Regions from separate parts of the Homo sapiens genome. Here region 2 is linked to region 1. Evidence: fine-mapped expression QTL. A gene starts in region 1. The other region holds a variant in brackets. All regions are shown on one strand. Distances are from middle to middle. Region 1 holds the start of FBXO17 (F-box protein 17). Region 2 holds the start of LOC124904713 (a long non-coding RNA gene).

Region 1 (5,375 bases):
CCTCCTAGTAGCTGGGACTGCAGACACATGCCACCACACCCAGCTAATTTTTGTATTTTTAGTAGAGACGGGGTTTTGCCATGTTGGCCAGGCTGGTCTCAAACTCCTGACCTCAGGTGATCCGCCTGCCTTGGCCTCCCAAAGTGTTGGGATTACAGGCGTGAGCCACCGCGCCCGGCCTGTTTATTTGTCTTGAGATAGAGTCTTGCTCTGTCACTCAGGCTGGAGTACAGTGGCACCATTACAGCTCACTGCAGCCTTAACCTCCCAGGCTCAGGCGGTCCTCCTGCCTCAGCCCCCCAAGTAGCTAGAACCACAGTCACACACCATCATAGCCAGGTAATTTTTAAATTTTTTGTAGAGATGGGGGTCTCACTATGTTGCACAGGCTGGTCTTGAACTCCTGGTCTCAAGTGATCCTGCTGCCTCCCAAAGCACTAGGATTACAGACATGAGCCACCGTGCCCGGCCAATGTAAACATTTGATAACACATCAGATTGGCAAATGTCAGGGCCTCCTAGTTCAGTTCTTCTTGGTTGATGGGAATGACAGTTGAGGTTTTATTGTGATAGAAGGCTTTAGATTTAATTGGGTAGAAACAGGCCTTGCTCAGCAGAAAGAGCTGCAAAGTAGGCACATCAGCCTGCACCATGTGAGGAGACACCAGGAACAAATGTGACTCCGAGGGAAAGCACGACCAAGACCATAAATAAAACCTCTCTTCCTGTTCAGATCCAAGCACATGGACAGGCTCTGAGTGACAACCGCATTCAGTGGGCTGCCCTGCTAGAGGTTCCCCAGGCCTCTCCACCGGTCCTGAATCATCAGCCTTCCTGAAACTGGCTCTGACCTAAAGCCGAAACCTCAGCAGGTCTGAGGCGGTTACCAGGGCTCCTTATATTGGGTGAGTCAAATCACACTCCCTGCAGGAAAGGAGTCTAAAAACTAGAATACCAATAATAAAGAAACAAGGCCAGATGCAGTGGCTTATGCCTGTAATCCCAGCATTTTGGGAGGCCAAGGCAGGCGGATTGTTGAGCTAATGAGTTCGAGACCAGCCTGGGCAGCATGGCGAAACCTCATCTCTACAAAAAATACAAAGATTAGCCGGGCATGGTGGCGTGCCCCTGTAGTCCCAGCTACTTGAGGGGCTGAGGTGGGAGGATCACTTGAGCCCAGGAGATCAAGGCTGCAGTGAGCTGTGATCATGCCACTGCACTCCAGCCTGGGTAACAGAGCCAGACGCTGACTCAAAAATAAATCAATAAATGAAAAATAAACAATTCCACTTTTTGTAATAATAACAATAAAGAAACAAGCTCAAGTCCATGGGTATCAGCACACTGGTGACACGTGTCAGCACAAGTATGCATTAGCTTTGTAATCATTATAATAACACACAATTGCTTTGTCTATTTGTTAAGGTATTTACAACAATCGCAAACATCTGACATTAGATTTGGGAAGGCTTTAAGCGATGGCTTTTGGAAGGAATGTTGAAATGATTAGGGAAATCTGGTTTCGAGGAAGACTTAGAGGAACAACTGTTTAATGTTTTATCAAAGAACAAAGATTAGTTAGTATTCTTGTCCCTACATATGCAAGCCCCTGGATGTCAGAGAATTGAGCAGCATGAAGAAATGGCTACTTACGGCCAGGCGTGGTAGCTCACGCTTGTAATCCCAGTACTTTGGGAGGCCAAGACAGGCAGATCACCTGAGGTCAAGAGTTCGAGACCAGCCTGGCCAACATGGCCAAACCCCCTCTCTACTAAAAATACAAAAATTAGCCAGGCGTGGTGGCGCGTTCCTGTAATCCCAGCTACTCGGGAGGCTGAGGCACAAGAATTGCTTGAGCCCGGGAGGTGGAGCTTGCAGTGAGCCAAGATCTAGCCACTGCACTCCAGCCTGGGCAACAGAGCGAGACTCCGTCTCAAAAAACTAAAATAAAATAAATAAACCCCCCAAAATCCGGAATGCAAAACAAACCTAGGCCTACGCCTTTCACATAAGGAACTGCGTGTGGATCTGTGCTAAAAACTCTACCAATAATACAGTAATTTTACAACCCACAGCAGAAAATGCTTTCAAAGGCGGTTGTTACAAATAATGTAATAGTAGTCAAATTAGCGTTGGCTCTGAGTCCAGCACTGTGCTCCGCGCTGCACACGCAGTCTCACGCCGTCCTCACGATGGCGCTGTGGGGCCTGGCTGAGGTTTCTAGGGGAAGGGGCTTTAGGGAATCCAGGCTCTCTGGCTGTGTGACCCCTCCAAGCTAGCGACTTGGACTACGTGCAACAGACCAGGTATCTCTGGACTTCAGTTTCTCGGGAGAGGCGTCCATGAGGAGGTCATGCATACAAAGCATTTAGCACAGTGGCAGATATGAGCCAGTGGGCCTGGAGAATGATTTACCAGCGTGGGGGAGGCCTGGCTTCCAGAAAACTAGCTCTGGGGTGTCTGAGATCAGTCACCTTGAGGTCCCTGGTGCAATCTAGGGCCATCAGAAGGGACTGCAAAGACCCAAGGGCAGAGGTAAAGGGAGAAAATGGGTCGCGGCCCCAGCCTGACCGAAACTGAACCTCCGGATTAATTCAGTTGTCTATAGCTGGGGGGATGGGGAGGACAGGGGAGTCCTAAGGTGGAAGGGTACAGGTTTGTCATTGCCACAGAGAGTGCGTGTGGTGAAGGGATTTAATTTAAGATCAGCCCCGGGCTTCTGAGAATCTGGCCCTGGGAAGCAACGTAAATACAAGAAAATCCCTGTGGCCAGGGACTTTGATCCAAGTGTTTCGAATCAGGCCCTGGGTCGGGCTCACAGCTAAGCGGTTTACCAACCGTGGACCTGTGCAGGATCCCATGGATGTGAGGGGTGGAGACGGCCGCAAGCAGGAGGCCAGGACCAGAAGGAAACGGAATTTGGGTGGGGGTGGGGAGCTAGGACCAGTCCCCCCGCGGGGGCGTCTTGGGGATGTGGAACTCGCACACCCAGAGGAGGTGGCTCTCCCAGGGGTGGGCCCCGGATCCTAGGGGCGCGGGGCTGGCCCCGCTCCCCGCTGGCCTCGCGGCAACTGGGCCTCCCCCTCGCTGCACGCAGCCCTCCAAGCTCCCCCGCCCGCCCGCCCTCGCTCCCGCTGGGCCCCGCAGCCGGAGGAGGGGCGGCCTCCCGCCCCCGCCCGCTGGATCTCAGAGTCGCCGCCCCCGGCGCCGGGCTGCAGCCGCCACGCCCCGGGAGAGGACCGACCGCCCAGACCGCCGGTCCCGGGGCCCCCTGGGCCACGCCGATCACGGGGAGCCCCTCGACTGCCTCCCAGAACAAAGTGGGAAAGGGAAGCTTAGCCCGCCGCTGCCGCCTCCGAGCAGCCCGCCAGGTGAGCGCCGGGACAGGTAGGGGACCCAGGTCGGGACCCAAGCGTCAGTCCCGTTCTCGCCCACAGCTGGGGCGCCCCGGGAAGGATTCCCGCGCCAGGCCCTGCCCGGAGGGGCGGGTCCCTGGGAGTCCCATAACCCGCAGCGTCGCTTTCCCGGGCCCTCCCTCGGCCTGAGGCTCCTTTAAACCCAAAGTTATACAAATGCACGTTAGAAAGCCCTAAATCTGGAAGGGCTTTGCTTTGAACGTGGGTGTTCGAACGCCCAGGCCTCTCCATCCCTGCGCTCGTCCGCGGAGGCCACCATCCAAAACCCCTGCCAAACGCTGCAAACCAACACGTGGGCGCAACAGCCCGGGGAAGGCCAGGCCGCTTTTTACCGTTGCTGGATTTTCTGTCTTCTGGCCGTCAGTCCCTTCGCAGAATCTGTGAATCAGAAGCCTTGGAGGGCGGTTTCTCGATTTAGCAACTTGGGCACATTATGTGTTTCGCTGCGGCCCCAACCCTCAATTTAAATTTTGTTCTGCCAAGTTACTTTTGCAATGTTCAGTGATATGTTCGAAAGCTCTGTATACTGCCTCTTCAACTTTAGACAGCGTCTATTTACTCCATATTTTGAAAGACAAATATTATGGGAGTCTAGTTGTAAAATAAATAATACTTCTTTAAAAATGTTCCAGTAATACACGACACTCAGACACGTAGGACAGGACAGAGCTTTGCATGGAAAACAACACGCCTTTAAACAACAACCTCTCCCTCACCACCGCCCCCAACCCCTGTCGGCCAAATACATTTTTTTGTTAACTACATTACTTTTCAAAAATGGCAAGAAGTAACTCGTGATCGCTGGTGCCTCGTTTTTAACTTTTTCCACTTTTTATTCCTCTGGTATCTATTTCCAAATCTTTACAGCATATTTTTGGATTGTTATTTCTTATTTCATCAACTTTTAGACAACGCGTCCATGGATCCCTTGCTAAAAATAGGAGACAACTTTGATCATCTCCGTGGTTTTCCTCCTCCCTATATAATCACCTCCCTGTATAGTCAGGACATTACTTTCGGCTTCTCTATTGGCTACTTTTCTAACATAAAATAATTTTTTTAACTTGTATTTATTGTTCCATTAAATATACCTAGTATCTGTTGACTCTCTTTTTGTAAGGCTTGGCTAAGGAGCTTCTTTTTAAAAAATATATTTTTAGGCCGGGCGTGCGCGGTGGCTCACGCTTGTAATCCCAGCACTCTGGGAGGCCGAGGCGGGCGGATCACCTGAGGTCAGGAATTCAAGACCAGCCTGGCCAACATGAACCCCGTCTCTACTAAAAGTACAAAAATTAGCCAGGCGTGGTGGTAGGCGCCTGTAATCCCAGCTACTCAGGAGGCTGAGGAAGGAGAATCGCTTGAACCCTGGAGGTGGAGGTTGCAGTGAGCCAAGATTGTGCCATTGCACTCCAGCCTGGGTGACAAGAGCAAGACTCTGTCTCAAAAAAAAAAAAACTATATATGTACATATATATATGTGTGTATATATATGTGTATATATATATATGTATATATATATATACACATATATATTTGAGACCCTGTCTCAAATCAAATCAAATCAAATCAAAACTGTGTTGCCCAGGCTGGAGTACAGTGTCGTAATCATGGCTCACTGCAGCCTCAACCTCCTGGGCTCAAGAGATCCTCCCACCTCAGCCTCCTGAGTAACTAGGGCTACAGGTGCACGCCCCCCCACCAAACCCCACTAATTTTTTTATTTTTTGTGGATACGGGGTTTTGCCGTGTTACCCAGGCTGGTCTCGAACTCCTGGGCTCAAGCCATCTGCTCGTCTTGGCCATCAAAAGTCCTGGGATTACAGGTGTGAGCCACCGGCGCCCAAACAAAAAGATATATTTTTAAAATAACATTTTTGTATTTATGTAAATATTAATTTCTTCAATTCTAATCAAATTCTACATATGGCTTAGAAATCAAATAGAAAAGTTTGCCTTAAT
Region 2 (5,316 bases), 36 kb after region 1:
CCCCCACCTATCTCCAGTGTCTGGGCCCCCTGCTAGAATGGCACTGACACCAGGGCGGGGTCCTTTTCCGGTTTTATTCACTGCTCCGTCCCCAGCAAACTAGCGCAGGACTGGCACCTCCTCAGTCCTTTGGGCCTATCTGTTGAAGTGGAGGAAGAGAAGGGGCCCGCAGGCCCTCACCCTCTCACTCCCCTTCCCCCTGCAGGTCTCCCACGTCTTCACCAACTTTGGCAAGGGCATCCGCTACGTATCTTTTGAGCAGTACGGGAGAGACGTGAGTTCCTGGGTGGGGCACTATGGCGCCCTTGTGACCCACTCCAGTGTGAGGGTCAGGATCCGTCTGTCCTAGCGACTGGACTACTGCCTGACGTTGTCAGTCAAGACCAGCCTTGCAGCCAGGTGCAGTGGCTCACACCTGTGGAATCCCAGCACTTCAGGAGGCCGAGGTGGGAGGATCACTGGAGCTCGGGAGTTCAAGACCAGCCTGGGCAACATAGTGAAACCGTCTCCACAAATAATTTTTAAAAAATTAGCCAGGCATGGTGGTGCCGCCTGTAGTCCCAGCTACTCAGGAGGCTTGGGTGGGAGGATTGCCTGAGACCAGGAGGTTGAGGCTGCAGTGAGCCGTGATTTCACCACCACTCCAGCCTGGGTGAGAAAGCAAGACCCTATATCAATGAAAAAAAAAAAAAAAAAGACCAGCTTTGCAGCCAGAAGCCAGAGGATACCCAGGGACAGTAGGGCTCCCAGGTGGCTGGTTCTCAGCACACCTTCCATGAATCTGCTTGCTGCTGCTTCAGTGTGGTGGCCATCATGCTGTGTGACAAACCAGGCTGTTCACAGCTTCCTCAGCCCCCCAGAAGGGGAGTGTCAGGAAGAGACATTTAGTTCATTTGCCTGCAAATTTTCTTCTCCTGCAAGGATCTCGGTGGACTCAGTCACAAAACAAAGGCTAAACCAGGATTTATAAGAGAGGGCTTATAAATCCCTCTGCCGACGCAGGGAGCAGAGACTTGCCGGCATGTTTTGGGGGTAATGATCGTGGGCAGGGAGCAGAGGTCCGCTGAGGCAGTCTGTCCTTGAGACTAACAAAGTCATCTGCTGTTTGGGGAAATCTCTGGTGTTGGGAACAGGCCCCCAAATCTGGCCATAAACTGGCCCCAAAACTGGCCATAAACAAAATATCTGCAGCACTGTGACATGTTTGTGATGGCCATGACCCCCACCCTGAAGGTTGTGGGTTTACTGGAACGAGGGCGAGGAACACCTGGCCCACCCAGGGCGGAAAACCGCTTAAAGGGGTTCCTGAACCACAAACCATAGCATAAGTGATCTGTGCCTTAACGACATGTTCCTGCTGCAGATAACTAGCCAGACCCATCCCTTTATTTCAGCCCATCCCTTTATTTCCTGTAAGAAATGTTTTTAGTTAATCTATAATCTATAGAAATAATGCTTATCACTGGCTTGCTGTCAATAAATATGTGGGTAAATCTCTGTTCAAGGCTCTCAGCTCTGAAGGCCGTGAGACCCCTGATTTCCCACTCCACACCCTATATTTCTGTGTATGTGTCTTTAATTCCTCTAGCACCGCTGGGTTAGGGTCTCCACAACCGAGCTGGTCTCGGCAAGTGGCACCCATACGTGGGGGCTCGAACCCAGGTCGAAGAGTCACTGGAGCGACGGTTGGAGAACGTGGAACTAAGCTGGAGGACACCCGAGTACTCTTAAGCAATCCCCATGGTGAGTAAGAAGGGGAGCTCGGAAGCATCAGGGTAGCAATGGGACAGGTGTGGGTTCTGGTTCATTCCACCTTGGAACCTTTTCACACTGATGAGGAGCAGGGAGAGTGTAATGAAGTAATGGAAGAGGTAACAGAGCAGGTTTGTTTGCCAGCTAAAGCTAAAGTGGCAAAGGAGGAAGAGGTTCATCCCTACCCTTCTGCATCCCCTCCTTAGTGTGAAGAAAAAGAGTGACCTGACCCTCCAGATCTTTCTTTTCCAGAGGACACTGGGTGAAAAGTAGTTGCCCCAGTGACTGTTTGGGCAGTGCCTCAAGCGACTGCTCTCAGTTCCATTCAGGCAGGAATTCAGCAAGCTAGAAGAGAGGGTGATTTAGAGGCTTGGCAGTTCCCTGTTAGAATACATCCCCCAGATCAACAGGGAAATATTACAGCTACATTTGAGCCTTTTCCTTTTAAATTACTCAAAGAATTTAAACAAGCTATTAATCAATATGGACCAGGTTCTCCTTTTGTAACGGGACTGTTAAAGAATGTTGCTGTTTCCAGTCGGATGATTCCTCCTGACTGGGACGCTCTTACTTGAGCTTGTCTAACTCCTGCTCAGTTCTTACAATTTAAAACTTGGTGGGCAGATGAAGCTTCCATTCAGGCTCCTCGCAACACCCAGGCCCAACCTCAAATTGATATAACTGCACACCAACTTTTGGGGGTCGGCGGCTGGGCTGGTTTAGATGCACAGGTGGTCATGCAGGATGATGCCATAGAGCAGCTTAGAGGAGTGTGCATCAGAGCTTGGGAAAAAATCACTTCAGGTGGAGAACAGTACCCTTCCTTTGGTGCTGTAAAACAGGGACCAAAAGAACCGTACACAGATTTTATAGCTCGGTTACAGGAGTATCTTAAAAAGGTGATTGCAGATTCGGCTGCTCAGGATATAGTGTTGCGGTTATTAGCTTTTGACAATGCTAATCTCAATTGCCAGGCTGCTCTGTGACCTATTAGAGGGAAAGCACATTTAGTTGATTATATCAAGGCCTGAGATGGTATCAGAGGTAATCTGCATAAAGCTACTTTGTTGGCACAGGCAATGGCAGGACTGAAAGTGGATAAAGGAAATACTCCATTTCCTGGAGCTTGTTTCAACTGTGGGAAGCATGGGCACACTAAAAAAGAATGCAGAAAAAAATCAGCAAGTCAGGCCGGCAGACAGGGGAAAAAAGAAAACTGCTGAGCCTGATATATGTCCAAAATGTAAAAAAAGGAAAACATTGGGCTAATCAGTGTCACTCTAAGTTTGATAAAGATGGGAACC[C/T]GATTTCGGGAAATGCCATGAGGGGCCCATCCCGGGCCCTGTTCGAAACCAGGGGCATTTCCGCCTCAGGCCACTCCTTCACCCCTGTACAATGTCTGTCCCCTGCCACAGCCAGTAATGCCACAGTAGATTTATGCTGCACAAAAGCTGTGAGCCTTCTGCCTGAGGAACCCCCGCAAAAAGTTCCAACAGGGGTCTGTGGACCCTTGCCAGTGGGGACAATAGGATTACTTCTAGGGAGGTGTAGTTTAAATTTAAAGGGGGTACAAGTACAAACAGGAGTCACTGATTCAGATTACAATGGAGAAATTCAAATTGTTTTTTCTACTTCTGTTCCCTGGAAAGCAGAGCCAGGAGAGCGCATAGCACAGCTCCTGAATGTGCCATATGTGGGAATGGGAAAAAGTGAAATTAAACGAACAGGAGGATTTGGAAGCACAAATAAACAAGGCAAAACAGCTTATTGGGTGAATCAAATTACTGATAAACGTCCTACCTGTGAAATAACTATTCAGGGAAAGAAATATAAAGGTTTGGTAGATACAGGAGCGGACATTTCATTTCTCTATAGCAATGGCCGTCCACATGGCCAATTCAACCTGCTCAGTTTAACATAGTTGGAGTTGGTAAAGCCCCTGAAGTATATCAAAGTAGTTATATTTTGCATTGTGAAGGGCCTGATGGACAACCTGGGACTATTCAACCAAAACTTCTGTACCTATAAATTTATGGGGAAGATATTTATTACAACAATGCGGAGCACAAGTTCTAATTCCAGAACAATTATATAGCCCTCAAAGTCAACATATGATGCATGAAATGGGGTATGTCCCTAGTATGGGACTAGGAAAAAATTTACAAGGTTTGAAGGAACCGCTTCAAGCAGAAATACAAGTTTCCGCCAAGGTTTAGGATATTATTTTTGATGGCGGCCATTGTTAAGCCTCCAGAACCTATACCTTTAAAATGGTTAACAGATAAGCCAATTTGGATAGAACAATGGCCGCTAAGTAAAGAGAAACTGAAGGCTTTAGAGGAATTAGTTACTGAATAATTAGAAAACGGACACATAGCTCCAACATTTTCCCCTTGGAATTCTCCAGTTTTCGTAATTAAGAAAAGAATCAGATAAACGGAGAATGTTAACTGACTTAAGAGCCATTAATTCAGTTATACAACCCATGGGTACATTACAGCCAGGATTGCCTTCTCCTGCTATGATTCCAAAAAATTGGCCTTTAATAGTCATAGATTTAAAAGACTGTTTCTTTACTATCCCCTTAGCTGAGCAAGACTGTGAACAGTTTGCATTTACAATTCCTGCAGTAAACAACCTGCAGCCTGCTAAGCGTTTTCACTGGAAAGTATTGCCACAAGGCATGTTAAACAGCCCAACAATTTGCCAGACTTATGTAGGGCAAGCAATTGAACCTACTCGTTAAAAGTTTTCACAGTGTTACATTATTCATTATATGGATGATATACTTTGTGCTGCCCCCACTCGAGAAGTATTACTCCAATGTTATGATCACTTACAAAATTCGATTTCTTGCGCTGGTTTAATTATAGCTCCTGACAAAATTCAGACTACTACTCCTTACTCCTACTTGGGGACCTTAGTAAATGACACTACCATTGTGCCACAGAAAGCAACCATACATAGGAATCAATTGAAAACATTAAAGGACTTTCAAAAATTACTAGGGGACATTAATTGGATACGACCTGCTCTAGGCATTCCTACCTATGCCATGAGTAATCTATTTTCTATCCTTAGAGGAGATCCTGGTCTCACAAGCCCTCGGTAATTAACAAGAGAAGCTGAGGCAGAGCTGCGGCTAATCGAAAAGCAAGTCCATAAAGCTCAAATAAATAGATTAGATCCAGAGAAGACTCTAGATTTGCTAATTTTTCCAACTCAGCATTCACCTACTGGTGTTATTGTTCAAGAGTGAGATCTTGTAGAGTGGCTTTTTCTTCCACATACTAATTCACGGACTCTAACTCCTTATTTGGATCAAATTGCTACTATGATAGGAAATGGGAGAACTCGGATTGTTAAATTACATGGATATGATCCTGGAAAAATTATTATCCCTCTCACAAAGGCACAAATACAGCAAGCTTTTATAAATAGTCTTACTTGGCAAACCAATTAAGCTGACTTTGTGGGTATTCTCGATAACCATTTTCCTAAACAAAACTGTTTTAATTTTTGAAATTAACTAATTGGATTCTCCCTAAAATAACTAAATTTAAA

What was found. PIP is the estimated chance that this variant, and not a neighbour inherited with it, causes the effect. A credible set is the group of variants that fine-mapping cannot tell apart.
Region 2: its variant is the best candidate, but not a certain one, in a credible set for the expression of FBXO17 in esophagus muscle (GTEx, PIP 0.63).

The regions. Positions count from the first base shown.
Region 1 is chr19:38,973,582-38,978,956 of GRCh38, reverse strand. It overlaps FBXO17 (F-box protein 17), which reads left to right and starts at 3,215. Exons shown (of 6, transcript NM_024907.7): 1 at 3,215-3,371. RefSeq lists enhancers at 669-768, 1,219-1,268.
Region 2 is chr19:38,937,641-38,942,956 of GRCh38, reverse strand. FBXO17 (F-box protein 17) reads left to right here. Exons shown (of 6, transcript NM_024907.7): 6 at 206-1,556. The coding sequence ends at 349. It overlaps LOC124904713 (a long non-coding RNA gene), which reads left to right and starts at 1,559. Exons shown (of 2, transcript XR_007067253.1): 1 at 1,559-1,743. The variant C/T (reference allele first, on the strand shown) is at 3,057.